5 separate regions of the Homo sapiens genome follow, and all the other regions are reported to be linked to region 2. The links are microRNA targets in miRTarBase. Many come from high-throughput screens and were not tested one by one. Region 2 holds a microRNA gene; each other region holds the end of a gene's coding sequence.

Region 1 (6,184 bases), not on the chromosome of region 2:
TGCTGCCCTGTGCTACAGCAGGTGTAGAATCGTTTGGGGAAGGCGCAGGACATCTGGATGAATGGAAACAGCATTTCCAACAAAGTCACATGTAAATAGGTACAGAATAATAAAGTGCTAGTTAGGTGCACAGTGCTGAAGAGGCCCAGAGTAAGAGAATAATCGTGGTGAGTGTCTTAGAGGAAATTATTGAGCTACATTTTGTAAGAAGTAAAGGTCTAGATTAGCAGCAAGATAAGTGGGCGGGCACTGGAATTTGGCAGACTATTCTGTAAAAAGACATGGAGGTGGAAATAAGGAAAAAGAAGTAAGGAAAGCCTGAGTTGAGGTTGTTGGTCAAAGGAAAAAAGAGAAGGAACCATGAATGGGACCCCTGTGAAGCAGAGTTCTAACATGTAAATGTCCTGCGGCTACCACAGAATCAATCTTTATCTCCTCCTGTCCTGTAGGCGGTGGGAGCAAGGAAAAGGAGGCAAAACCCCCACAGGAAGACCTGAAAGGGGCGCTGGTGGCACTGACATCAGAGAGGTTTGGGGAAGCCTCTCTCCAGGGCCCTGGGCTCGGAAGGGTCTGTGAGCAGGAGCCTGGTGGCCCTGCAGGCAGTGCGCCTGGGCTTCCTCCTCCCCAGCACGGTGCCATCCCCCTGCCTGACGAAGTCAAAACCCACAGCTCCTTCTGGAAGCCTTTCCAGTGCCCTGAGTGTGGGAAAGGATTCAGTCGGAGCTCCAATCTCGTCAGGCACCAGCGAACCCACGAAGAGAAGTCTTATGGCTGTGTGGAGTGTGGGAAGGGCTTTACCCTGAGAGAATACCTGATGAAGCACCAGAGAACCCACCTGGGAAAGAGGCCCTACGTGTGCAGCGAGTGCTGGAAAACCTTCAGCCAGAGACACCACCTGGAGGTGCACCAGCGCAGCCACACTGGGGAGAAGCCCTACAAGTGCGGGGACTGCTGGAAGAGCTTCAGCCGCAGGCAGCACCTGCAGGTGCACCGGAGGACGCACACCGGGGAGAAGCCCTACACCTGCGAGTGTGGCAAGAGCTTCAGCAGGAATGCCAATCTGGCGGTGCACCGGCGTGCCCACACTGGCGAGAAGCCATATGGGTGCCAGGTGTGCGGGAAGCGGTTCAGCAAAGGGGAGCGGCTGGTCCGACACCAGAGAATCCATACAGGGGAGAAGCCCTACCACTGTCCTGCCTGCGGGCGAAGCTTCAACCAGAGGTCCATCCTCAACCGGCACCAGAAGACCCAGCACCGCCAGGAGCCGCTGGTGCAGTGAGCATAGCAGGTGGCAGGCAGCACCATCATTCATCTTTCTCACTGCAGGGCCTTGCGGGGTGCAAGGTGATGGCTGCAGGAAAGCACTGGTCCCATCGCCTTCCCACCCATTCGCCAACGCGGGAAAGGCAAGGCCTGGCTTACTTAGAGCTTCCAGAGAGCATAGCTGCTTCCATCTCTTACCCAAGTGGTGCTAAACAATTTTTCTTCCAATGTTTGAGGGAAGCAGTCTCCTGCGGTTCAGTTCAGGCTGAGATTTTCTCCTTCAGTGGACTGTCTGTGTCCCCCTGCCGAACAAAGCTGGGAGTAAAGGCAAAACCTTGACACGTGTTGGTAGCTGGGACCTCATCTTCCTGAGGGCTCTGTCTTGCCTGCAGGGTCATAGCTCAGACTCTTCCCCCACCCCCTCTCTTTTCCATTGAACAAACATTTATTGAACATCCTCTGAGCACCTGGCCGTGGGAATGCCGTGGTGAATGAGAGACTAGACGTGATGCCTCTGGGGGTTGTGCGTTGGGGATGCATGCGACAGCCCATGACCCGAGGCATTCTCAGGGTATCTGTGCTGTGTGCCCGTGAGAACATCTTCCCATGACCACTCCTGCCCTCCTGCCCCGTGCTGGATCTTCCCTCCCCAGCTGGGATCTGCTCCCAGGCAACTGTGTGAATTTTACATTATTTGGAGCCTCATCTGTGTCAGGCTATAACATTCTATCCTCATCTGTAAAACTTCCCCGTCCATTATTCCTTGCACTATAACAACTGTCAACACACCAACTATTAGGAAGTTAGTATTTTGCTATTGATCACTGAATAAACATCAGAGTATTTTAAAAAACAGTTCTCTAGAAAGAACTGTTATAATTAAAATGAGTCTGAAAGATGAACTCTAGTATTAATGCCCTATATTTGATGGCACTTTATAGTTCATAAAATTAATTTCACCCCATTCTCATTGGACCCATTTCCCAAGTATTTATTGAGGCCCTGTAACAAACATGTCAGGAACTCTTCTGGGTGCTTGAGACACATCCATGAATAAAATAGGGGGAGAAGCTGTTGACCTCGTAGAGCTTATGTCTCGTGGATGTACCTGATCTTCAGAACCCGTGGATATTCCTGCAAATCCTCTGGGCCTGTATTCATTGCTTTGTCAGCATCTTGCCCTGAAATGCATTTGTCACCTACCTCTTGTTACTAAATGGTCTCTGCCCTCCAGACCCTTGTCATCCAAGGCACTAGGGGTCCTGGACACCCACTGGGGATGATGAGCTGGTAGCGACCTGTTTTGCATGAGTGCCAAGTCAGGAAAAATAAAGATATTTGTAGGCATTAAAAAAAAATACATTTCTTTAAAAATGAGAAGATGCAATATTTGTAAACTGTTGAAGCTTCCTTATTGTGCCATCACTTAAGGGTTTCATTTCTGTTTAAAGTTCTGGAAGCTGCATAACTAGCGTGGACTGACTGCTGTGTCATTGTGCTGTGCCTTTGAACCCTGGCTGAGTGAGTGAGTTTGTCCTTTGTTGATAGTGTCCTATAATTGCAAAATGTGGTTTGTCTTCTGATGCCTCTTAATACCAGATTCTTTTACTGAGATTTTTTTTTTTCATTTTCCATTGTAAATAAGGTAAATGGTAATGACTAACACAAAGCTGTATTACTCAGCCCACTTTGAAACGTGGTTTTATCACCTGTTCTTGTTAGGCAGCATGGTGTCTAATTTTGGCTTAGCAAATGACGCTCCTTGGTCTTCCTGGCTCATTAGCTGTGCCCACGAGGCTGCACTGACTGGGTCGTAAATGTATCTGAGATGTCCACACGGGGCTGCTGCTGCTCCTCTGTAATACTGAGGTCCACATGCAAAATCAGCTTTTTTTCCCCCGTAATTATCAGAGCAGCTAGGCAGGGCTGACAGCCAGGCAGACTCAGTGGGAGGCTTCTGGCCTGAGTGTGGCCTTCCCCAGAGGGTGGTTTTCCAAAGGCAGGTGGGGACTGGGGAGGCCTCGGGGGGCTGCTTGTCATTACCTGAATCACAGATGCTCTTTTGTCATACACAGCCAGCATTCCTCTGGGTTTCAGCAAGTTGGCATATCTTAAGCTTCAGAAGGAGCTGGGCCTTGCTGACTTTCCTATCTGGCCTCTTCCCTATCTCCTGTGGGGCCAAGAGCTTAGGACAGTGTCTCAGAAAAGCCTCTAAGTAGGGGGTTTTTCCCATGGGATTGTGGTAGTCTGATTTTTCATATCTATTCAAATGTTAAGAAATATTTTGTTTTCTGTATTTTTCTATTCTTTAGAAATTTTTTTATAATAGATAATTTCAAACCTATATAAATAAATCCTTATGTATTTATCATTTGACTTTATTATAAACTCATAATCAATCTTGTTTCATCTCTGTCCACTCCTTCCTCCCCGTCTTCCTCCCCCACTGAAGTTTCGAAGTGTATCCCAAGTGTTGTTTATAACCATTTCAGTGTGTACCTGTAAAAGGTAAGGGCGGCTGGGTGTGGTGGCTTACACCTGTGATCCCACCACTTTGGGAGGCCAAGGTGGGATTGCTTGAGAGGAGTTCGAGACCAGCCTGAGCAACATAGTGAGACCTCATCTACAAACAAATATTAACTGGGCATGGGTGGTGCATGCCTGTGGTCCCAGCTATTCAGGAGGCTGAGGCTGGGCATCACTTGACCCCAAGAGGTTGAGGTTGCAGTGAGCCCTGATTGTGCCATTGCACTCCAGCCTGGGAGACAGAGCAAGACCCTGTCTCAAAACAAAACAGTTCCTTAATGTCAAAATATCCAGTGAATTTTAAGAACCCACCTAATTTTTCAATATAATATAATTTGTTGCTTTGTCTCTTAAGGCTTATAATCTGTAGTACTTATCCTTTTCTTCTTGAGATTTATTCATTTTAAAAAACTCGATCATTTATCCTGGAGAGTTTTTTACATTCTGCATTTTCTGTTGTTTTTTTTTTTTTTGAGCTGGAGTCTCGCTCTGTTGCCCAGGCTGGAGTGCAGTGGCACAGTCTCAGCTCACCGCAACCTCCCTGTCCCGGGTTCAAGCGATTCTCCTGCCTCAGCCTCCCAAGTAGCTGGGATTACAGGCATGTGCCACCATGCCCAGCTAATCATTCTGCATTTTCTGTTTGCATACCCATGGCGTGATTTAACATATTTCCCTGCCTTCTGTATTATCTAAAAATGTAGAAGTGTTTAGTGGTGTAATCAGATTCATATTTCACATTTTGGCAAGAACACATTATAGATTGTGACATGCCCTGTTTCTCTTCATATGATTTTAGAAGCCTAGATCTGCTTCTTTCGTTAGTTCTGTAAATGCTTCATCATTTAGTAGTTGGAATATTGTAAGAAATTTCCCTTCATTAACTTAGGTTACCCTTAGATATAGTTCATACAGGGAAGGCAAGAAAATGCTTGATCCTCCTCTTTATTTGCCTGTTTTCAGAATAATGAGCTAGTTACTTTTTGCTTCCTGTAAAGGCAGTCAAGTCTGTAGAAATCAATGCATTCATAGCTTTTTGCTTTTATTGGTTTTTTTGAGACAGAGTCTTGCTCTGTCACCCAGGCTGGAATGCAGTGGTGCAATTGTAGTTCACTGCAGCCTCAAACTGCCAGGCTAAGGTGCTACCCCTTCCTTGGCCTTGCAAAGTATTGAGATTACAGGTGTGGGCCACTGCACCTGGCCTGCACTCATGGATTTAAACATACTTGGTATTGATCAGTCTGCTGGAGTTATAATTTGATGCTCAAATTATTTCACCTTTGACCAGTGGAGGCCCCTGGACCTTGGCTCCTGAATCCTTTTGACATAACCCTAATTCTCATTGACAGCTTCTTTGCTTTCTGGCATGACAAGATGTTCCAGGCAAATGTTCCGTATTTCCTGCCCCTTTTGAGAGTGAAAGTGGGTGCTATTTATTATGCTGGGACAGTGGTGTAAACCGGGACTCTCCAGGTCAAACGGGTATTTGGTCAACTCATAGATGGGCCTCCTTTTGTATGACAAGGCATCTGTGGTTGCCTCACATTGTGATGATGCTGTACACCTTCAGTGTCTGGCTGCATGTGCCGTGCTGCTGGGTAATGAGGGAGGCTGTTGTCCTTTGCAAGAGAAACTCTGTTTTCTCCCCTGGGTGGTGGTAGAACCAGGTAACTGCCTAAGGTCTGTCCTGGGGAAATATTTCATCAAGAAAGTTTGGTCCATGTCATAGTGTGTGCTATGGGTGTTGTCTGCAGGCTGATTATGCTTAAAATACTTTCAGTACCTGTTTTATCCCAGCTGAGAGGCAAGGAGAACCTTTGTTTCTTAAAAAATAAGCTGGTTTCAGCCAGGTGCGGTGGCTCACGCCTGTAATCCCAGCTCTTTGGGAGGCCGAGGCGGGCGGATCACCTGAAGCCAGGAGTTCGAGACCAGCCTGGACAACATGGTGAGACCTTGTCTTTATTAAAAATGCAAAAATTTGGCCAGGCGCGGTGGCTCACGCCTGTAATCCCAGCACTTTGGGAGTCCGAGGCAGGTGGATCACAAGGTCAGGAGATTGAGACCATCCTGGTTAACACAGTGAAACCCCATCTCTACTAAAAATATATAAAAAAACAAAATTAGCTGGGCATGGTGGTGGGCACCTGTAGTCCTAGCTACTTGGGAGCCTGAGGCAGGAGAATGGTGTGAACCCGGGAGGCGGAGCTTGCAGTGAGCCGAGATCGCACCACTGCACTGCAGCCTGGGGGACAGAGTGAGACTCCGTCTCAAAAACAAAACAAAACAAAATTAGCCAAGCGTGGTGGCAGGCGCCTGAGGCAGGAGAATCACTTGAACCCGGGGGGCGGAGGTTGCAGTGAGCCGAGATCATGCCACTGCACTCCAGCCTGGGTGACAG
Region 2 (6,184 bases):
CTTTGTATATTATTTAACTTTCAAATTTGCAATTTGGGGCATCATCTCCTGCCAGCCTCAGGAGGCGGCACTCTCCTGCCAGCTCCACCTCTGGGTTCACTCCCACCCCCAACCCTCGGCCAGCACTCACAGGCTGCTCGCACCACAGAGCCCACTCTCTGCATGCCCACTGTCAGCCCAGGACTTCCTGCCTTGTTCTCTGGGTCTGTAGCTGGCTGCCTTGCTCCCCACCCAAATGTGAGTGACTTGAGGGCACATATCCCACTTTGTGCTTTATACAGACCCACCATCCTGCCTCCTACCCCAGGAGGTACCCCCAAAATGGTGAAGCCAGAAGTGCCTTCAGGGACGCTTCTACAGTCACATGGAGAGTAATCTGCAAATTCCCCACAGCCAGGGGACACCTGCCACGTGCAGTGAGAGGAACACAAACCAGCAGCGGGGGGGCACAGGCAGGATGTGTCGGCCCACCCCTCAGCGGTCACCCATCGCTTCCTCGGAACTCCCAGCTGCTCAGGGCTGAGGCGGGCGAGGCTCAGAAGTGTGGAAGGGCCCTCCCCAGCTGGTGACTGCATGTGGCAGGCATCCATACCCGGAACGCCCAGCCAGGGAGTCGGGCCAGCCCATCCCTCCTGCTCACAGAGTCACAGAGTGGGAGCAGACTCGGGGGTCGAAGCTGGGCAGCGCTCGCTCGCACTTCCTTCTGCAAACTTGACCAGGTCCCACGGCCTCTTCAGCCCATGGCTCCTTTCTCTGATCCCCAAGCCAAAGCCAGCAAATGAGAATAATCCAGTAGAGACAGCTGGGTTTTGGGATCAGGGTAGGGGCTCAGAGCCAGGGGTCTGGGATTCTGGTCAGTCAGTTTTTCTTCATCAGAATCAATCTCAGAACAAGAGGGAGGCCTAAGGCATGCCTGCTGCTGGCCAGGGGTGATGGGGACCACTGCCCACAGAAAGCCTTCTAACAAGGGCTGGATCCAAACAATCAAGGAACAAGGATGCCTAAAGCATTAGTTTCTCATCTAGCCAGAGAAATATTAAATGTGCAACTCACATAATTTTACAAACAAGAACCACCAACATAAAATAAGTGGAATATTGAAAATATTCAACAGGTAGAACAAGTCAAAGAACATGCTTTGCTTCCTATTCAGGCCAGGAAGGGAGAGAAAGAGAAGAAATGGAAGGTGAGGAGGGATGGGGAGATGGCAAAGTGGGGGCAGAGGGGAAAAAGAGAGACAAAAGGATTGGGGAGAAAAAACAGAGAGAGAAAAGCATAAAGGAAGAAAGGATGAGGCACAAAGAAAAGAGGAGGGAGAGCAGGTGGATTTTGGGGAATGCTGGACAATTGGTCAGGCTTGGTCTGCAGAGGCTCAGAAATCCTTACCTGGACATGAGCCTTTGTTTATAATTCTTCACTGTTCTAACCCTGAAAAGTACCTCTGTTCTAATCCTTAATCTTTCCCCCTTCAGGTCAAGAATGCCTTTGAGAATCTGGCAGTAGTTCTGAACCCTGTCCTAGAAAAATACACTTATTTACATACAATTTTGCATGCAACTTCAGGGGCTCAAGGACTCTATGTTAAAAATACTTATTCTAGAAGCTCCACTCTGATTGGGAGACCCATAATGGCCAAAGCAAAAACACCTCAATTGCCAGATGAAACTAAAATGAGGGTGGGATGTGTTGTATTCAAGTCTTCACATTGAGCTTTAATCATACCATTGGCTTCAGTGACAGAATTTAGGGCCTAAGCACCTTCTCCTGGTTACTACCCCAACAGTCATATTGGAAGCAAGGCTGGTTACTCCAAGGGGTCCATTGTGTACATGGATGGTTATTTCGCAGTAAGGGGCCTGTCAAAGACAGGTAACAATGTGTGAGTCAAATTAACCCTTTACAGATCAATAGGATTAGTAAATCCCATATACGTAGTAGTTTCCAAATCTGAATGTACATAAGAATTTCCAGTATGCTTACCTAAAATGTAGATTACTAGTCCAAAATTTGAGAGTATGGATCAGACTGTTTTTCTAATGAGTTTCTAGATAATTCCGATACAGGAAATCTCCAAACCAAACGCTGAGACACACTGTTCTCAGAGAACATTGCAAGCCTGAGAGGCTGAGCTTCTGGTCCCACAGGTCAGCTGATTATCTACTCCTTGCAGTGCGATTCTTGTACACTAGGGGGTAGGACTGAGCACATATACAAGGGCACCGCAAGACGAGGTTTGGACTACTGCATCAAAAAGGCTACCTTTACAGGGGAAAATAGAATGAGCAATGCAGAACATGAAAGGTAGAGTGCCAGGAGAAACCTTCCAAGGGCCTCGAAGACAGTAGTTCCCAGAGCTGACTTAAAAATCATGATAAAAAACTACCTGGAGCACTTCTTACAATCCAGATTCCCGGGCCTCAGGCTATTAGGAAACGCGCTCACACACACACACCAAGTTTCCTCAGGGATTCTGATACACACGCAAGTATCACAACTTGTTTGTTTATGGCACTTCAAGCCCAAGGGTATTTTGATCACTATACCAGACCATTATCATAAAGACGCTTCGAAAAACTAAAGTGCCCTTATAATTCTAAAGCAAAAAACAGTGAACATTACCAGGGTTTTCTTCTTCTTTTCTCTTCCTCTTCCTCCCCCTCTTTCTTTTTCATTGAGGAGGCTAATTGGAGAAGGTGGGCCACGCTGGAATGCCCTGAATGGGTTCCAGATGGTGAAGTCATTGGCCTCTTGGCCCAACTGTTCCTCCCTTTTCCCTGGAGTGCTGTACAAATATTATCATTTTCTGGCTGTGCAGTGACATAAAAATGGTTGAGAGGCTCTAGGTCAGGTGTAAAAGAAACTCATGGAAAGGGAAGAACAGCTCGGTCCAAAAGAAATTGTGGAGATACTTTCCGATTCTCTGCAAGGTGGAGAATCCCAAATCAGATGCCAAGCTCAGCGTGGATTGGTTTGGGCTCATCATGTTGTCCAGTCCCCACTGGCTTTGGCATCTGATCTGGGATTGTGAGGGGGTGCGGTAGGTCTCAAGAGAAATGCTGAAGGGGCAGCCCTGCTTCCGGCTGCTTAGCAGAGTGGTGGCGACAGGGAAACCCAGGCACAGATTGCAGATCCTCCGCCCAGGGAGGATGACCACGATAACAAGACTGTCTTACGTTTATTTAGAATCTTCCTTTGCCAAGGCAATCGTATTTATAGTAGTTGCTCATTTTGAGTATAACTTTTTAAAAACATTTTGATTTTCTGAAATTTGGATGTCTTACAAGCAACATGAGGACTTAATGTAAGGCTTTTTTCCACCTGAAAATTTGGTGTGAATTAAAATTGATGGTGACTTGGAATTGAGGAAATACGTTTTATTACATCATTTAATCTCTAAATAATCTGTGAGGCAGATATTATTATTCTCTATTTTCTAGAGGAGGAAACTGACGCTTAGGTGATTTCCCCAAGGTCAAGGATTGAGAAAGTGGCAGAGCCAGGACTAAAATCCAGGTTCCAGTATTTCTTCCCTGATAATGTCTGAGCAGATTTGTTCATACACTAGGAATTTGGGATTGCAGAGTAATTGCTCCAGAACTGCTCCAAAAACTGGCTGCCACCCACAGTTACTGGGGCAGAGAAAGCAAGAAGTGACTTTCCTTTTGCTTCAAGTAGAAATTTGAGGGAAAAGAAATAGAAATGTATATAGGTTTGTATGGTGGCTGTTTGTTTGCTTTAGGCCATAACAGAAGTCCCTTGATTACTTCAGGAGCTTCAGAATGTACCATGCTCATTCCTCATACCACGATCACCTCTGGTACGTGTGAGTTTAAAATGGTGCTCATTCGGTCATTACAGATTTACTGTTTGAATTTGTTATTTTATTTACTTTAGAATGCTTTTCATTTTTAGCAATCAGGATTCTAGAGTGTCATATCTTTAAAAGTCTAGCATTTTTATTTCTGCCAGTTCAAGAGGATGCAGGAAGAAGTTTAACAGAAGAAACCGTCTTCAAAATAATAAAACCCCAAAATTATTCTCTACAATATCCAGTAAGTGCTGATTTTCTAGAAAACAGTTGGCAGGGGGAGAGAGAGAAGGAACCACCCCTCCCCCCAAACTCAAAGAAAAAATAACTACTTTGGACATATTATTTCTAATCCTTTAAAAAACACTCTTCCAGGAGGGTATTTCTTTCCATTAGACAGATGGACAAACTCAAAGGGTTTCGGTGACTTGCCCACAGCCACACGGCTAACAAGAAGCATGTGTTCTGATAGCATTAATCAGAAAAGCATATATTGCTGACATGGATTCCCTGTTTCATGAGGGCAGGGACCATCGCTATCCTATTCTCCGCTGTATCCCAAAGCCTACCTCCTGGCACCCCGTAGGCTTTGATGACTACCTATAGGGTGGGAGGATGGGAGGAAGAAAGAAAGGGAGGCGGAACAGGTGTGTGTGCAGCCAGGCGCTCCGTCCACCCTGCCACTCCTCTTCTTTGGAGACAGTGCTCTGACAATCTGTTCCATCAACTCCATTCTCCTGCAACTCTCATCACACTTTCACAAGCTGCGCAGATTACGTTTCCTAGGACTGTGTCCATCCATCTGCCTCACTGGATGCTGATCCACTCTGGTGTGTTTCCCAGTCAGTCACTCAGCAAAGTGCAACCGAGAGCCAACCATGTGCCCGGTACTTTCCAAGATGCCAGGATAAAACGGCAATAATATGGGATTCCTGTGCTTGAGGTTTTTACAGCCTGAAAAACAATGACCTCTGCATTTCCTACTCAGCACCGCGTGCCATCAACATCCAAGGTATGGGGATTTTCTGTAGCTGCCTATCAAACTCTCTCAGCTACCACCAGTGCTTCTTTCTGCTATATCTGATGCCTTGTTTTGTTACTTTCAGAAACACCAAAGGATGGCCGCAATTGAGGGACTCTTCTCAATAGCATGTTCTTGTGCTTCTTCATTTAGGACACATCTCCCATGCTGGGAAGTACAAGACAAATACGAGGAGTTGGGCAAGTGTCGCACTAAGTTCTGCCCCTGGCTGGGCAGCCCACTGACTTCTAAGAGATAATGAAATTTATGTATTTATTTATTTATTTATATATTTTTTGAGATGGAGTCTCACTGTCTCATCCAGGCTGGAGTGCAGTGGTGTGACCTTGGCTCACTGCAACCTCCACCTCCCAGGTTCAAGCGATTCTCCTGCCTCACCAGGAGAATCTTGTGATGCTGTAAGATGATAAAATGCCTATGTGACGAGACAATGTGGGGCGGATGACGCAGGCATCGTGACATAGCACTTGGCTATTATTGGCCTTGAGCTCTGGACTAGCTGGGGTTACAGGCGCGTGACACCACACCCAGCTAATTTTTGTATTTTTAGTAGAGACAGGGTTTTACCATGTTGGCCAGGCTGGTCTCGAACTCCTGACCTCAGGTGACCCACCCACCTTGGCCTCCCAAAGTGCTGGGACTGCAGGCATGAGTCACCATGCCCGGCCAGATGATGAATTTTAAAATCAAGTTTTATTATGGGGAAACTGAAGACCCACAGATATTGGGGTGCTGGCCTAGGGTCCCACAGACAGTGGTAGAGAGAATGCTGGCTTCAAGTCTCCCAGTGCAAAATACTTTAACTACCGTCCCCTTTCACTTCACTAGTCAGCAGCTTCGCAAACTGCATTTTCAATGCCATGCCCTACATGGGACTTATGTGTCCTGCTTGTTTTCTAATTCAGTCAGTGAAGAGCAGGCGGCCCCAGCAGCTGGAAACAATGTGAGCTTGATGGTTAAGGACATGGACCCTGAGGTCAGAAGCCAGGGCTCAAATTCTGGCTCCATTGCTTACCAGCTGGATAACTGCTGGGCAATCTAACCTCTCTGAACATCAGTTATCTCATCTTTATCATGGGGACAATAACACACAGGGACTCCATAGATAGGATATAGTGAGATGTATAATGCTTAGTATAGCACCTGGCACAAACAGAATGCTCAATAAACATTAGCTATTACAGTATCCCCCCTCCCTTATCCATTAGGGGTACATCCCATGACCCCCAGGGGATGCCTGAAACCAAGGATAGTACCTAACCCTATATACACCACGTTTTTTCCTATATATGCATACCTATGGTAAAGTTTAATTTATAAATTAGGCACAAGAA
Region 3 (4,000 bases), not on the chromosome of region 2:
GGATTCCTCCCAACATGACCAGGGCAGAGAGGGCTCTGCAGGCCTCTGGGCCAGAGGTAACTGAGAGCCACCCTCTTCTGCAGGTGTGGTGACTCTGCTGTCTGACTACGAGGTGTGCAAGGAGGGCGATGTGCTGACCCCAGAGCAGGCTCGCGTCCTGGTGAGTCTGGCGCCTTGCGGGCTGTTGCGGGCGGGGTTGCTGGCTTTCCTCTGCCTGCTGAAAATGCCCCCCTGCACTTTGAATACCTTCATTCCTCCTGATTCTTTGTTCCCTTTGTCTCTTGCAGAAGCTTTTTGGGTATGAGATGGCTGAATTCAAGGTGACCATCAAATACATGTGGGATTCACAGTCGGGAAGGTTCCAGCAGATGGGAGACGACTTGCCAGAGAGCGCATCTGAGTCCACAGAAGAGTCAGACTCAGAAGATGATGACTGAAAGGGACTCGGGACTGAAGGTCTCCTGGAAGCTTCTGGGTCTCACTGGACCATCAGGACTGCTGCCGCCCCTCTGGAGAGAGCAGCTTTTTATTTGTCTGTAGACAGGGAACATGATGGGCACTGACCTCCTGTAAAGAATAAAACTGTGGGCCGGGCGCGGTGGCTCACGCCTGGAATCCCAGCACTTTGGGAAGCCGAGGTGGGCAGATCATAAGGTCGGGAGATTAAGACCATCCTGGCTAACACGGTGAAACCCCGTCTCTACTAAAAATAGAAAAAAAAACTAGTTGGGCATAGTGGCATGTGCCTGTAGTCCCAGCTACTCAGGAGGCTGAGGCAGGAGAATCACTTGAACCCGGGAGGTGGAGGTTGCCGTGAGTTGAGATTGGACCACTGCTCTCCAGCCTGGGCAACAGAGTAAAACTCTGTCCCAAAAAAAAAAAAAGAATACAACCTTGCAGGATGTCTCTCCTGGAGACAGCAAGAGGGAGAGGAGGGAGAGGGCTCTTTCTTAGAAAAGAGGCCTTTGGTGAGCCCAGAAGTTTGAAACCAGCCTGGGCAATTCAGCAAGATCCCGTCTCTACAAAAAATAAAAAAAAATTAGTCGTGGTGCCACTTGCCTGTGGTCCCCACTGCTTGGGAGGCTGAGGTGGGAGAATTGCTTAAGCCTGAGAGTTGGAGGCTCAGTGAGCCATGATCATGCCACTGCACTCCAGCCTGGGTGGCCATTGAATTCTGCGTGGATTGCCTCAGTTTGCCTTGTCAGCCAACTTCCACTGGCTGCCTTGGCACTGCCATGACAGCACAGCTCCACACCAGAGCTGGGGTTTCTCTTCAGTCCTGGGTACCCCTTGGCAGAGGGATTTGCTGAGGAAAATTAGGTATCCTTCCTAGCCCTCCACACACTTCCAAACCAGGGCTGCGGATCTGATGGATGCCAGGAAGACAGCCTTGGGCTGAGAGTGACATCACTGCAAGAGTTGAGAGCCAGCGTCTAAAGTGTCCACGGCATCCTGGGAGGTTTTATCCTTGGTGACTCTAATGGTAGATTTTTGTCCACCTTGTTCTATTTGCTTTTGTTTGTTTTTGATTTTTCTGTTTTAAAATTTTAAGGAGAGATGGGGTTTCACCATGTTGCCCAGGCTGGTCTCAAACTCCTGAGCTCAAGCGATCTACCCACCTTGGCCTCCCAAAGTGCTGGGATTATAGGTGTGAGCCACCGCATCCAGCCCACATTGTTCTATTTGTATTTCATGAAAGCAGTTCTGAATGAGAGTAAATCAGCTTCAGGGTGTACAGTGGCCCTCTTTTTTCTGCCATGCATGGAAGAGGGCCACCTCCAGCCCTGCTGTTGGGAGGTCAGGCTGGGTCCCACGGTGTGGGGTGACCTTCACAACGGCATTGTGCCTCTGACACCCTCTCAGTGCCTCTGTTCTTTGGAGACTTCCTACTCCCGCCCACTTCTCACCACGCCCTTGGGAAGGACAGCAGGAAGCAGGCTTCGGGCAGAAGAGGAATTCACCATGTTCACCCAGGCCTAGGCCAGGTCAAGCACCAGCCTCAGCAGGAAGTGCTGAAGGAGAGCTCAGGCCCGGCCCTCTCGCCTTGTGAGGATGACTGGGAAGACTGCACGAGTGTAGGGGAGGATCTGCAAACCGGGCTGAGAGGGGAAAGCAGCCTACAACCATTTAAGGCCAAAACTGGCCAGGGGGAGAGAATGAAGGGTGGCAGGTGGTGCCCTCCGCACCTGAGCCAGGTCTAGCCAGACCTGGAGGAGGTAGTGGGATGGTCAGGTGCCAGGCTTGGTCGGCGGCCTCTGTGACAGCCGAGTCCAGGGTCCCTTTGCTGCTGCCAGTTTCTCCAATTGCTCCATCCAGGATGACCACGTCCCTATGCATGCCCTGTAAGGGAGACAGCTAGACTTCAACACATTTCTGCTGCACAGTGACTAATCATGCCCCTCCCAGCCATGGCCCCGCCGCTAACTGGGCTCTGGTTATTCACGTATGCCTTGCATTACTGCTTGCAAACAGCCATGACCGTTGGGCTTTAAAGCCCTGCCTCCACGCTGTCTCAGCTTTAGACAGCTGACTTCAGAGCCACTCATCTGCTGCTCAGCAGCTGGGTAAACCCAGGTCAGTCACCCAGCCTTTCAGCTTCAGACTTCAGGCCGCTTGTCTGAATTAGAAATTGTGTGAAGCACTTTGCCTGCAGACCAGGCACGTAACGTGCTCACTAAAGGGAAGCCATAACCATATAATACCCAAGCTGGAGAAGGGGGTTAGGGACAGCAGGGAGAGGGAAACCCTGCCACTACACACAGGGTTGGGCTGTCTCCAGGGTGGGCAGCCAAGGAGCCAGGAAAAGCTAATGGTTAAAAATGTAGGTTTCAGACCAGATGCAGTGGCTTGCACCTGTAATCCTAGCAATTTGGAATGCTGAGGTGGGCGGATTGCTTGAGCCCAAAGACTCAAGATCAGCCCAGGCTCAGGCCGGGCACGGTGGCTCATGCCTGTAATCCCAGCCCTTTGGGAGGCCGAGGCAGGCGGATTACGAGGTCAGGAGATGGAGACCATCCTGGCTAACACGGTGAAACCCCGTCTCTACTAAAAATACAAAAAATTAGCTGGGCATGGTGACGGGCGCCTGTAGTCCCAGCTACTCGGGAGGCTGAGGCAGGAGAATGGCTTGAACCTGGGAGGCGGAGCTTGCAGTGAGCCGAGATCACAGCACTACACTCAGCCTGGGTGACAGAGCTAGACTCTGTCTCAAAAAAAAAAAAAAGATCAGCCCAGGCAATGTAGTGAGACCCCTGTCTCTACAAAAAATACAGAAGTTAGTCACATGGTGGTGTATGCCTGTGGTCCCAGCTACATGGGAGACTGAAGCGGAGCATTGCCTGAGCCCTGGAGGTCAAGGCTGCAGTGAACCATGATCAAGCCACTGCACTCCAGCCTGGGTGACAAGAGGAAGACCTTGTCCCCCCAAAAAGAAAAACATTAGTTTCAGTCAAACCCACGTTCGTTCCCTACCATGTGTAGCTGTGGGACCCTACACAAGTGAAATTGCCTCTGAGCCAGTTGCCTCATGTAAAACTGAGATGACCATACTTAACATGGCCATCGCAATAACTAGTGTTGGTTACCTGGCCGCTTAAGTAATTTGTGTAAGAACAGGTTTACCCCACCCAAAAGAACTGGGCCATGGAGAGCCTTCATAGGAAGAAAAGGACTTAACTCCTCTTGGTCAAAGTGACCAAATGACTGCATAGCCCTCGCAGCTTCCCCAGTCTCCCCACCCCCACAGAATTTGAGAGAAGCAGCTGAGCATCTAGAGACAGCTGGGTTACCTGCAGCTTGCGAGTGGTCCATCGCAGGACAGTCAAGGCCATGCCAGGGGCACTGGTGCTATATACACAATCTGCAGGACCTGCTCCACCAGGGCCATGGCCTTGAAGTGGTGCTTGTTCCAGAAGCTGGGTTGGGGGAGGGTATTGCACGGGGGTCAGTACTAGGGGTCATCTCAGGGCGGTTGCCTGCACCCAGGTCCCTGAAGCACTGA
Region 4 (6,020 bases), not on the chromosome of region 2:
CTTGATAGTGGCTGTGACCGGGTAAAGGCAGCTGCTGTAAAGAGGCCGTGAGTGTGCGGTGGGAAGGTCTACTCTATAGTCTACAATCAGGCCTCAGAGTTTTGGTGAGCTTGCACCCCTCAGCTGAACATTCACAAATGAGTCTCCGTCCTCCCTCCCGCCCCCACCTTAAGTGAGCCGGGAGATGGCTAGAGTGGGCTGGCGTGGGAGTTTCCCTTCCCCCAGGTCAGTTAGGCGCTGATAAAGCCGCGGTGGGGTTAGGGGAGGCGACCTCGTTAGGAAGAGCAGAGTGCGGCAGTCTCTTTCAAAATGGTCCTTTTTCTTCTTCCCACTGCAGGAGGCACGAGGGGATTTTTCTCCATTATTCACTGTGAGAACTCGGGGAAGCTCCAGAAGGTGAGGGAGAGGGGACAACGACATGGTTCCCGTGGATCTTTAACTTCCAGACTTGCCCGCTCTGCGCCTCCGGCACTCTGGTGATGACAGCTCAGGTTTCCCTGCCTGTCACTGCTCGGGCAGAGGCTGCTGCCCAGGGCTTCTGCTCCGGTACCTTGTGAAGCTGCATTCTCCTGCCGGTTTCTCCAGTTCTGGGGACAGTGGTTTGCTCTGAGACCTCGCTTCCTTTATGGATCCAAGGAGACTTGCTTTTTCAGTCTGTTCAGCTTTTTACTTGCTAGGATGGAATTGCAATTTGCAAGCTTCTTCGACAGGAAACTACAAGTTCCACACTTTAATTTTATACATATAAATATATACATGTGTACATATATCTATGTACAGGGGTATTATATATATACATATAAGATGATGATATATATAATGATGATATGTATTACTGAGAACGTAAAATATCATTACATAGTGATAGCTGGACACACAAGGAATTCACAACTCCCCAAAGAAAATACATCTGGATGACCTGCCTAGCAGTTTCCCCATGAGATAGAGGAATGTCTACGTATTTCATTCCCTGTTCCTGCCCTGAAACAATTTCAATCACTGACAAATCATTATCATTCATTAATAATGTTTACTGAGTGCCCATATGTGAAAGAAATCCACTCTACATTCCACAGATGCATTTCCTCTCCCCACGGGGTTTCCATTTTAATGGGAACAATGTAGAATATATCTGTCTTCCCTTTATAGATTCCATTTGGGTTTTTTGTTGTTGTTTCTTGTTCTCTCTCTCTCTCTCTGGTCCAGAGGAATAATTTCCTGGTTTTGTAAACTAAACCGGATCATGTCACTTCCATGAATCAGGGAATACTTAATGAAGGAGTAAGGATTTACAGAGGACTGGGGATAAGAGATGGAGGGAAGCTGAACAGAAGGCAAATGAAACTGGTTGAGCCTCTTCAGAACACACAACAATTCCTGGTGGTGAGTCAGTGTGGATGGGGGAATGGGACACCTTACATGGGGATCAATGAAGAATCACTGGGGTCAAAAAGAGCACATGTCAAGAAGATGTCAAACTGATGACAAGCAAATATTGCCCCAGTATTACAATTCCTGTTGCCCCATCTCAAAATTACCCTGTCAGTTTGATGGGATGAAACTCTCAGACCCCGTTTCATACCACAGACACTGAATCCCTATTCCACAGCTTAGGAAGTCCGAAGAAGTAGACGGTATGTGTGTCTTCCAAAGCTGTCTACCAGAGATGATCAAGGTGTTGGAGAACTTTTGTCTCTCTTAATTGTTCTGGTAACTGCTGTGTACAACGAGGCTAAACACTCACTGATAAGAATTCTCTCCCTGCTGCCCCAATGCAACTTCTAGATTGTACACTAGTACAAGAGTCCTAACGCAGTAACTTGCCTACACGCAGAAACTGGCTGACCTGGGCTTTGGGTGTAGGAACCCTTCCTAAAAACATGAGTATCATCCAGGAGTCTAAACAATTTGATGGGTAGACCTTATATTGAATTACAAAGGTTTAGGAGTAGGAATTAGCTAGTCCAGTGGTTTTTTAAAAAAAATGTTTTTAAAGAAGGAGAACTCTATTTTTCCACTAAAATCATATGTTGAAGCAAAACAAATAACATTTATGTAGTTGAAAATTGGGTAGGAGAGGAGATCTCCACTGGCCCCTAAGTAAGAACTGTCTCAAAGTTCTGTCTCGAAAACCACTTATCTAGCCCAATTCCTCAATTTTTATTGTTTTTTGTTTGTTTTTATTTGTATTATTTATTTATTTATTTTTGAGACGGAATTTGACTCTTGTCACCCAGCCTGGAGTGCAGTGGCACAATCCCCGCTCACTGCAACCTCCACCTTCTGGGTTCAAGTGATTCTCGTGCCTCAGCATCCTGTGTAGCTGGGATTATAGGCACACGCCACCCCATCCGGCTAATTTTTGTATTTTTAGTAGAGACAGGGTTTCGCCCTGTTGGCCAAGCTGGTCTCCAACTCCTGACCTCAGGTGATCCACCCACCTTGGCCTCCCAAAGTGCTGGGATTACAGGCATGAGCCACCGTGCCTGGCCTATTTTTATGTTTTTAAACAAGGTGTTGCCCTGTCACCCAGGCTGGAGTGCAGGGGCACTATCATAACTCACTGCAGCCTTGAACTTCTGGCCTCAAGCAATCTTCCCACCTTGGTCCCCCAGCAGTGCTGGGGTTACAGGCACGAGCCACTGCACCCTGCGCAATCCCTCCATTCCTATAGGTGAGGAAATGGGAACACAAAGAAGGCAGGTAAATTACCCAGGGTTACGGGACTAGGGGTAAATCTGGTTCCTGATGCTTAATCCTTTGCTCTTTCTACTATAACCCCCATCTCTGAGAATCTATTCTGAACCCATGGAACTACACGTGGTGATCTTAAGCCACAAAAATTACTGACACAGTGTTTTCATTAAGGACTCCCCCTGCCCTGTCCATTTCCTGAGAATGAGAGGTTTCTAGTTCTTTGTACCACATTAACTCCAATTGGTAATTCTGAATTCCTTCTTGGCAGAAGTAATATAGATCAGATTCCATTAAATGTATTGCTACAGAGAAAATTTACTTTTTAAAAAAATTCAAACCCAGCTTATGGTCTACAGACTTCAGTAAGATTTAATCAGCAACAGTTTAGTATTATACTGCAAAAGAATTTGGATGGTGTTTGGGACATTACTATAAATAGGTTTTGCCTATATTGCGTATATTGGCCTCATGTTGGCACCTTCAGTAATTCCGACAGCAGTTGGCTTCCAAATCCCTCACCATAAAAGTGGTTGCATATTATGAAATCCAACACTGATATCCCAGCATCCCAAGGAGTTCATCCCTATATCTCATTTAGTTATCTTCCAAGTAATCTGCTGTGATATGCAGTTTGCTACCCTGGCACAGACAGGAGGAAAAGAACCATCAGCCGCCCTAAGCCTGCAGTTCTGAGGCTCCCCCAAGGCTTCGATGGGCCTTTCTAGGAGGTGGCTCTGTGATTCCAGCCTCAACACCAAGGAATCTTGGGTTATTTATGAGATCAGAGCCCTTATTAATGTAATTCTGTTCAAGGCAATTTAAACGAATGAAATAGGCATGATGGTGCACGCCTGTGGTCCCAGCTACTTGTGATGCTGAGGAGGGGGATCACTTGAGCCCCAGAGTTTAAGGCTGCAGTGAGCCACGATGGTCCCACTGCACTCCAGCCTGGCAACACAGCAAGACCCTGCCTCTGAAACATTTTTTTTTAATTTAAAAAAAGAAGGGAAGATAAGTGAGAATTTGAAAGCAATGACAGACATATTTGAAAGCTGCAGGGGCAGGTGGAGGCAGCCACGGAGGACACGGTGGGGCGTCAGCTTGTGGGGCCGGAAGTTCCGTGCGAGCACCTAGAGCGAGGTCTCTCATACTCGTTCCCACACCACTGAGATTGGCGTTTCACTAAGGACCGATTGAGGAAGCAACAGCAATGAAAAGGAGGCCACGAGGAATGAGGAAACTGTCTACATGGAGTATAAACTCAAGGCCAGCATCCAAGGAAAACATCAAATTGGAAAGAAAAAAACAGAAACATTTCAGATGGCGGAGCTGAAACTCAGTCTCTGGGATGTGGCGACTTCGGTCTCCCTCTCATGCCTGACAGTGGAGTCAGAACCCTGTCATTTTTAGAGGCTGGGTCCCTGGCACGCGATTCCTCTGGTACAAAAGAACCCACTCACTGCGCAAGTGGTCTGGGCAGGGGACTAGGTGTGTGGGGCCAACTCACATCCCTGACTCCTGTTTCTCAGCCATTAGCTCATATCTGAAACCTGGTATTAGAATAGTTCATGCCGGGACACTCTTTGAACTCTGTTTGCCCTAGTCCTGGCACTGCTGCCCTACAAAGGGAGGAGAATTTTAATAGCATTAAACACACACACACACACACACACACACACACACACACACACACACACACACACAAGGGAAAGAGGATGAAATACTTGTAAAGCTTTTGATAGTATCGAGTCATACACATATAAGCATGCAAGTGGTAGGAGTACTGAATGTTCTAGAACATACACAATACAAGTTGCAGTAGAACTACCTTTTACATTACCTCATGGAGCAGCAAGGCTATGTTAGAGCTGAGAACAAAACTGAGGCTTCTAAACATTTGGGGCTTTTGAATACCTCTCCCCATATATTGTTTTGGAATGACCCCCAGCTTTCTGAAGAGCACGGAGGGTGGAGCATGGCCATCCTGCAGCACTGTAGAAAGAGCAATGGGCTTTAGAGCTCAGTTATGCTGATTGTTTCCTGCGTGACATAGAGCAGACGACCTAGCCTCTGGTCCTGTTTCCTCATCTTTATTTATTTATTTATTTATTTATTTATTTATATTTTTTTGAGACAGAGTCTCACTCTGTCGCCTAGGCTGGAGTGCAGTGGCGTAATCTCGGCTCACTGCAACCTGCACCTACCAGGTTCAAGCAATTCTCCTGCCTCAGCCTCCTGAGTAGCTGGAATTACAGGTGCATGCTACCGCGCCTGGCTAATTTTTCTATTTTTAGGAGAGATGGGGTTTCACCACGTTGGCCAGGCTGGTCTCGAACTCCTGACCTCAGGTGATCCACCCACCTTGGCCTGCCAAAGTGCTGGGATTACAGGTGTGACCGTGCCCGGCCCTGTTTCTTCGTCTTTAAAATGAGAATATGAAAGCCTTCTTCACAGGGTTGTAGTTGGAATACACGAAATGAGATGATGTATGTAAAGCTTCTACTATAGTGCCTGGCGTATAGCAGATGCTTTGTTCATTTGATCAATATTAATTAAGCACCTTACTACATGTCAGGCACTGTGTGAGGTGCTGGAAATAAACGTTAGTAGGAACAGACCTGGCATCTGTCTCCTTGGAGCGTGCAGTGTAGCCACCTATTGTGTCACTAATAGTGGCACTTACTGTGAATGGCCTGTCTTGACTGAGGTGCACAGGTGGTACTTACACAGGTCACAAAGATGAGCAAAGTACAGGCACTGCTTCTGAACTGCTTAAATCTGATTAAAAAGCTAGGACAACCATAACCACATAATTGGATGCCTCTGCCACTAATTAAGTGATCTTGGGGAAATAATTTAACAATTTTGGACCTCAGTTTCCCCATAAATAAAATGAGGAGGTTGGACTGGATTAATGGTTCCCAAACGTGGCTGAGTATCACAATTGCCTGGGGAAGCTTTTAGAAGTACATATTCCAGGGACCCACCCCAGACTTGCTCATCGGAATCTTAAGTGTGGGGTTCAGGGATCTGTAGTAATTTTAAAAATGTCCCCAAGTGATCCAACACAGATATTTTGGTCTTAGTCCATATGTCAGATCCCTTTTAACGAAAGAGTTCTGGGATAAATTACTATAATCCAAAGCCGAAGCAAAGAGTGCCACAGAAAAGGCACCAATACAATATTGTGAGAGTTAGGAAAAGGCAAACATCTCAGGGGAGGCAGCAGCACTGAAGCGGAACTTGAGCTGGGCCTTGGATGAGGGCTGGAACCTGAACTTGAGGGGAGAAAGAAAGGGAAGAGTATGGAGAACTGAACCCAA
Region 5 (6,101 bases), not on the chromosome of region 2:
CCAGGTTCAAGTGATTCTCCTGCCTCAGCCTCCCAAGAAGCTGGGATTATAGGCATGTGCCACCATGACCGGCTTTTTTTTTTTTTTTTTTTTTTTTGAGACAGAGTCTCGCTCTTGTTGCCCAGGCTGGAGTGTAGTGGCTCAATCTCGGTTCACTGCAACCTCCGCCTCCTGGGTTCAAGTGATTCTCCTGCCTCAGCCTCCTGAGTAGCTGGAATTACAGGTGCCTGCCAGCACACCAGGCTAATTTTTGTACTTTTAGTAGAGATAGGGTTTCACCATGTTGGCCAGGCTGGTCTCAAACTCCTGACCTCAGGTGATCTGCCTCCCTCGGTCTCTCAAAGTGCTGGGATTACAGGCATGAGCCAACTGCACCTGGCCAGTTTTGTATTTTTAGTAGAGATGGGGTTTCACCATGTTGGCCAGGCTGGTTTCAAACCCCTGACATCAGGTGATCCACATGCCTCGGCCTCCCAAAGTGCTGGGATTACAGACGTGAGCCACTGCACTCAGCCCAAGTTTTGCCAACTCTTATATCCATTGCCAACCTATAGTTTCGATTCAACCATGATTTGACAAATGAAGCTGCGCGCCAATGAGTGCGATTCTTTTTCCAATGAATGAATGGTCATTAAACCTGATGTGATCTACTGTTAAACTATTTCTCACCCTTTTACCAAACACATTCATTAAATTGAAACTTCTTTCAAATCTCCATCTCCACTGATCACAATAGGGCTGTCTTTTTAACTTTTTGTACAGATAGATGTAGGGATTGAAACACTGTTTGATCCTACATTATTTAATAATGGCTGGCTTTAACATCCTGCTTGCAAAATTCCTAAAACTATGGCTCTTGCTAGCTGTAGTGAGCCAGCCCCAGCCCACATGTGGGTGACACCTGGCTATGCCTGGCCCAGCGTCCAGCATGTAACTGACATTATTCCCCTCTGTCCGTGGCTCGCAGCAGCCTGGTAAGGTGGCATATCCTACTTCATAGGTGAGAAAACCGAGGCTCAAGGGTGATTAGGCTTCAGGTCTGCTGCCTCCAAAGCCCCTGTTCTTCCCACTTCGCTAGGCCACCCCATCCAGTCTTTCACACACTCATTAAACACTGGTGGCCACTTTCTTGGTGTCAGATACTGGGATACAAAGACAATTTACCTTCTTCCCTTCTGGGAGCTTTGGCTATCCCAGGAGGGAGGGTCAGTGAGCCTCAAAACCAGGCATGGGTGGGAGGATGCTGAGGCTGAAGGCTGGACTCCAGCCCTCAGTCCACCATTCATTATCACCGTTAGACCTGGACAAGAGGGCACTGCCCCGGGCCCTGTGTTTTAAAAGTCCCTGCTCCTGCCCTGGCCCTCCTCTTGGGATAAAGAGTTCCAGGGTTCTACGTGGAGGTGCCCACCTGGAGCTCACAATTCCTGCCCCTCTGGACCAAGCTCAGAATACCCAGAACTCTGGAACTCCTGCCCAGGTAACCCTAACCCCACTTGGCTGGGCTCTCAGGACCCTACCCTGGATCACAAGGGCCCAAGGTGCCTGTAATTTTATCTCCAGTGGTCAGCGAAGGACTCACTGAGAAGGCGATGTTTCAGCAAAGACCTGGAGGAATGGGATGCCTCGGGGGACTCTCAGGCCCATTGACGTCCACTGTTGGGACAGGTTTCAGGGTCACAACCTCAAGCAGCAGCTGGCTGTGCCTCCTGGGCCTCTCCTGCCAGGTGCAGGGGGGCTGCAGCCATGAGGCTCCCCTGGCTCAGGTCTGGGCCCCCAAGTTCTTTGTAACGCAACTCTTTGCTCTTGGCCTTCTGGAAATAGAACCCTGCACGGTGTGAAACTGAAGCCTGGTCGAGGGCTGGCAGAGTAGGGGACCCAGGGAATAAAGTGCTCACGCCCAAACCAGGCTTGATGCCAGGGCAAAGGGGGCTCAGTGGACCCTCCATTTTACAGATAGGGAGACTGAGGCGCAGAGAGTAGACGCATCCTGCCAGAGAGTGCAGACCTGGCCTCTGTTCTGTCTCAATTACAAAGCCCCTCCTCTTTCCCTGCTGCCAGCCATACCTTTAATGGTCTCTCTCTCCATCCCCAGTCCCCTCAGTCCCCAAATCCAACTGGTCAGGTTCTGGAGGGAAACCTAGTAAGTTCTGTCTTAGCGCCCTGGCTTGTAAGTCACACTGACAAGTATAAAGCCACATGTCTATTTTGGAGGCTTACCCCCAACCCCCACCCCGCCAACAGCAGCCTCCCCGCAGCTCTTGGCCCTGGGTGGGCCCAGCTCTCCCACAGCCACCTTCCTTCCCACCAAGAAAACATGAGCAGAGCAAATTGCCTAATGAGACCCATATTTTGCTGAGTTGCTAATCAAAGAACAAACCCAACCTACCATTAATTTGGTCTTGGGAAAGAAACTTGGCCTGCAGCAGAGAAAGGAAAACAGTCAGGGGAGGGCTCCACCTGAGGTTCACGCCCCCAGCCCTGGCCAGGCCGACACAGACCCTCACACTCACCATTCTGGGGCCTCGGCTGCTACCCGTGGGCTTGCTGCTCCCAGAACCGCGTTCAGTTCCCTTTCCTCCAGCCTCAAGTCTAAAGTCTGCCAAGCTGGGTGGAGGCCCGGGTAATAAATGCTCGGCTGCCATGGAGACTGGGCCCGACGCCACCAGGGTCAGATTCCAGCTTCCTGAGCACAGCTCATGACCCGCCACCTGGGCAGGTTGGATTTTTGAGGAAATGGGGCTGCAGAAGGCTCTCCCTGGGCTCAGAGTCTCTGCCTCCAGAAGCCGAAGCAAAGGGACAAATGCCAGTGTTTCTTCCCGGGAGCCCTGGACTCCAGGAAGGGGTCTTCTCTCTCTCTCCTGGGACTCGGCGGGGATGCCATCAGGCCCCTACTAGAGTTGGACACTTTACACCCCGGGTCGTATTGAAGGCTCCTCACACACCATCTTGTAGGAGGAAGGGAACCCTTCCAAGACGGCCTAACTCAGAGATGGGCACCGGGGCTCGCAGGCTTGGGGCTCGGTATTGCAGGGATACAAGCTTCGGTGCTCTCAGGCTGGGATTCAGTCCTCCCCGTCTGCTGACTTGCTGAGTGACTGGCGAATCATTCTACCTCAGTCTGTGCCTCAGTTTCCTCACCAGCTGAATTACAGGGCAGCTGGCAAAATCAAGTGGCCAGCGCACAGCCGGTTCCCATCCTGTGCCAGTTCAGTTCCCACCTTCTGAGGACTTTAAGGGTGGTGGAGGGGCCTGAGCCGGGTCTCCAGCCCCACCACAGGCTCCTCGGGGGCTTGGAGTGAGGCCTCTTAGTGCCGGTTACCCTGGCCAGGAAGGCTCCCCTTTTCTTCCTTCCCTTCCTCTCTCCACCCTCAGCCCCACCCCTTCCGCAGAAGCTGCTGACGCTCCCAAGTCTTCAGGAGTTCGTGCTGCTCCCCTCCCCCACATAGGAGGAAATGGGGGCAGGGTGTGAGGCCTCCCCAGCTTCTTCCCCTTGAGATCCCATTTCCCTGTTTGGGGCGTGAGGCTTTTGTCCACAGCTGAGTCTATGAGGCTCTACAAGTAGGTGTGGCTGCACAGGTGTGCCCTACACAAAGGCCCCCAGCCCAGGTGCGAGTGGTTGCTGGCCAGGGGCTGCACTGCCAATAGGAAGGGGGGCATTGTGCCACTTTGCACACAGGCGCATAGACGGGAGGCGCTGCCTGTGCCCCACTCTCCCCTCCCCGCTCCTTTCCTGACCGCCTCTGTGTGGAAAGTGTGCTTTTCTCCCAAATCACATCCCCAGAATCGCTTTACACCTGTTTCTAGACCCAGAGAATTTTAGCTGGGGACTCCGACTCCTCCCTGTCAGAGTTTGAGGCTCCCCCTCCCAAACCCCATGGCAGGGATAAGAGGAGGGAAGGCTGCCTCTGTGCAGAGGATGGAGAGAAGGACATCAAGGAAAGTCACTTGGGACTCTGGAAGCCTGAAGGCGGCCAGGCCAACATGCTCCCTCTGAATCCCCTTGCCTGTGGGAAGGGGCTCCAGAAGAGATGAGGTGCCTCCTTGGAGTTAGGCCAGTGTGTGCTGGGGTGCCCCGGCCAACTCCCTCCTTATGTGTGTAGGTGTCTCCGGGGGTGACGCACAGATGGAAAACACCAGCGTGGGGCAATGGCTGCGTGAGGGTTCACGATACAGCAACTCACCATGCTGTAGGGCGCACCGTGTGTGCTACACCTCAGCACGAAAGGGAGAAAAGACAAAAAACACCTCTAACACCACTTGGGGCTGTGACTGTATTTACTTCATTCTTGAATCCCGCGTCCCCGTGGCTGGGGGCTGACACATCCCTGGGCACCACTGTGACTTCCTGTGGGTCCCTTCCCTTCTGTCCCTGACTCTGTAGACCCCCCACAGGAAGGGTCCTAGGTAGGGGGAGGTTCCTCCTCCCTTGAAACCCTGGGCCACTCTGTCAAGGCAAAGCCTCTGGGCCCAGCACCTTGTAAAGGCTTTGATGAGAGGAGCTCTGGCTTTTGCTCAGGGCCTTTGGCACCCCACCCTCCAGCCCCCAGGAATGCAGGCGCTCAAAGCCTGTGGCTAGGCTGCCCGAAGCGCGTGCCGCAGTTCTTCTGGAGTGGGAGCAGGGGGACAGAGCTTTGGGTAGAGGAGGGTCACCTGCAAAGCTGGAATGCCAGGGGAGTGGGCGGTGCCTCCAGCTCCTGGGGGCCAGGGTGTCTCCATACCTCATGGGCCTGAGCCTGGGCAGGGGTCTGGAGTGCACATAGCCCCCAGGCAGGGAGAGGGCAGTGACAGGACAGAGCCACTCATCTGTCCCAAAGCTGCACCCAAGGGGTGTCAGCAACCCCAACCTACTGACCTACTTTGGGACCACAGGCCCATCTAGTGCAAATGAGGCCCAGAAAGGAGAAATGCTTTGCTCAACAGCCACAGTAGGCTGACGTAACCTATGTAATGTAGGGTCAGGGTGGGCCTGAGGGATGAGCCAGGTGGTGGGCAGGTGACACACCAGGTCCCCTCCTGGCCTCTGCCCCACCCAGCCCTCTCCTGCACGGCTACCAGAAGATGTCCGGGAAGAACAGACTAGCCCTGAGTAGGGAGTGTGGTCAGGTGCAGAGGAGGGCAGGGGCCCGGATCCTGGCCCAGAAACACTCTAAAACAGAATCCGATCCTGAGATGATCCAAATCAAACAGAAACTTGACGGAAATAGTAGAGTCTGAAAATGATGCACTCTGCGCACACATATACAAGACACACACACACACACACACGAATCCACGCACACGAGGCACACCCCACTCATGCTCTCGGTCTCTGGTTACACACCCACACCCCCCCTACTCCTGTATTCAGATGCCCTCCATGGCCCACCCTCCCACCCAGCAGAGCGCCAGAGCCTGGTGCCAGGGACTCAGTGCCGACTGCTGACGTGAAGGGTGTAGAAAGCCCAGGGCTCAGGGACGTAGATGACACCCGGGTACTTCTTCCTGAGAACAGGGTCATTCCACAGCCAGGCGACCCAGAGCGCCACAAGCAAGAGGGTCAGTGCGAAGGAGGAGAAGAGGAAGAGGCCGTTGCTGTCCAGGAAGAGGCGCTTGCGCTTCTGGTGCAGGACGAGGGCCAGCATGGCGAAGAAGGTGAAGATGAAGAGGATGAAGATCTGGCCCTCGGTGACCAGGTACCTGGAAAGGCCAGGGGTGAGTGAGGCAGCTGCCGTGGCAACCCCGTCCTGCCTGGCATCCCTTCCTGTGTGCGAGAGCCAGGCTGCCCTCCAGGCAGGCAGAAGAGTCCTCTGGTGCCAGGGCTCAGAGAACTATGCCGCTCTAAGCCACAGCCCATGGGCAGCATATTGATTTAGCTGGTATAGTTACTGTTTTTTAAATGTTGAGTTTGTTGCCAATATTTAAATAACAGAATACCTACAAATGTATATTTCTGGCTTCTCTGGTCACATTAAGTTTATACTTCCACACAACAAAAACTGACTAGAGGAGAAAGCAACAAACAATTGCCATTACGACGGCAGCCACCCCCGCGGCAGGATGCCGGGGTAAGAACCAGCAGGAAGCGCTCCCCTAACGTCTTTCCCGCTCACTGTAGCTGCCAC

Evidence for each region. Region 2 holds the annotated microRNA hsa-miR-5092 (AAUCCACGCUGAGCUUGGCAUC, at 2,946-2,967, opposite strand). A microRNA usually pairs through its seed, bases 2 to 8, with sites in the 3' UTR of a target mRNA and lowers its output. Matches are read on the target gene's strand: a 7mer-m8 pairs with bases 2 to 8, a 7mer-A1 pairs with bases 2 to 7 and ends in A, and an 8mer does both.
Region 1: the mRNA of ZSCAN25 is a reported target of hsa-miR-5092. Seed matches in the 3' UTR shown: 7mer-m8 at 2,361-2,367 and 8mer at 2,387-2,394.
Region 3: miRTarBase lists MRTO4 as a target of hsa-miR-5092. Seed matches in the 3' UTR shown: 7mer-m8 at 1,178-1,184.
Region 4: the mRNA of FBXL14 is a reported target of hsa-miR-5092. Seed matches in the 3' UTR shown: 7mer-m8 at 427-433.
Region 5: the mRNA of CLN6 is a reported target of hsa-miR-5092. Seed matches in the 3' UTR shown: 7mer-m8 at 5,268-5,274.

What each region holds. Positions count from the first base shown.
Region 1 is chr7:99,628,742-99,634,925 of GRCh38, forward strand. It overlaps ZSCAN25 (zinc finger and SCAN domain containing 25), which reads left to right. Exons shown (of 8, transcript NM_145115.3): 8 at 450-3,667. The coding sequence ends at 1,279. Among named protein-coding and RNA genes, the nearest start is that of ZSCAN25, 15 kb to the left of the region's middle. RefSeq lists an enhancer at 1,096-1,742.
Region 2 is chr3:125,148,530-125,154,713 of GRCh38, forward strand. MIR5092 (microRNA 5092) reads right to left here and starts at 3,023; the gene lies at 2,936-3,023. All of the region lies in intron 5 of SLC12A8 (solute carrier family 12 member 8), which reads right to left. RefSeq lists enhancers at 312-401, 512-701, 722-791, 5,614-6,115.
Region 3 is chr1:19,258,394-19,262,393 of GRCh38, forward strand. MRTO4 (MRT4 homolog, ribosome maturation factor) reads left to right here. Exons shown (of 8, transcript NM_016183.4): 7 at 84-160; 8 at 288-1,735. The coding sequence ends at 437. Among named protein-coding and RNA genes, the nearest start is that of MRTO4, 8.6 kb to the left of the region's middle.
Region 4 is chr12:1,561,128-1,567,147 of GRCh38, reverse strand. FBXL14 (F-box and leucine rich repeat protein 14) reads left to right here. Exons shown (of 2, transcript NM_152441.3): 2 at 338-1,155. The coding sequence ends at 400. Among named protein-coding and RNA genes, the nearest start is that of FBXL14, 30 kb to the left of the region's middle.
Region 5 is chr15:68,202,735-68,208,835 of GRCh38, forward strand. CLN6 (CLN6 transmembrane ER protein) reads right to left here. Exons shown (of 7, transcript NM_017882.3): 7 at 4,258-5,676. The coding sequence ends at 5,406. It overlaps CALML4 (calmodulin like 4), which reads right to left and starts at 2,598. Exons shown (of 5, transcript NM_033429.3): 1 at 2,511-2,598; 2 at 2,387-2,417. The coding sequence starts at 2,513. RefSeq lists an enhancer at 3,297-3,591.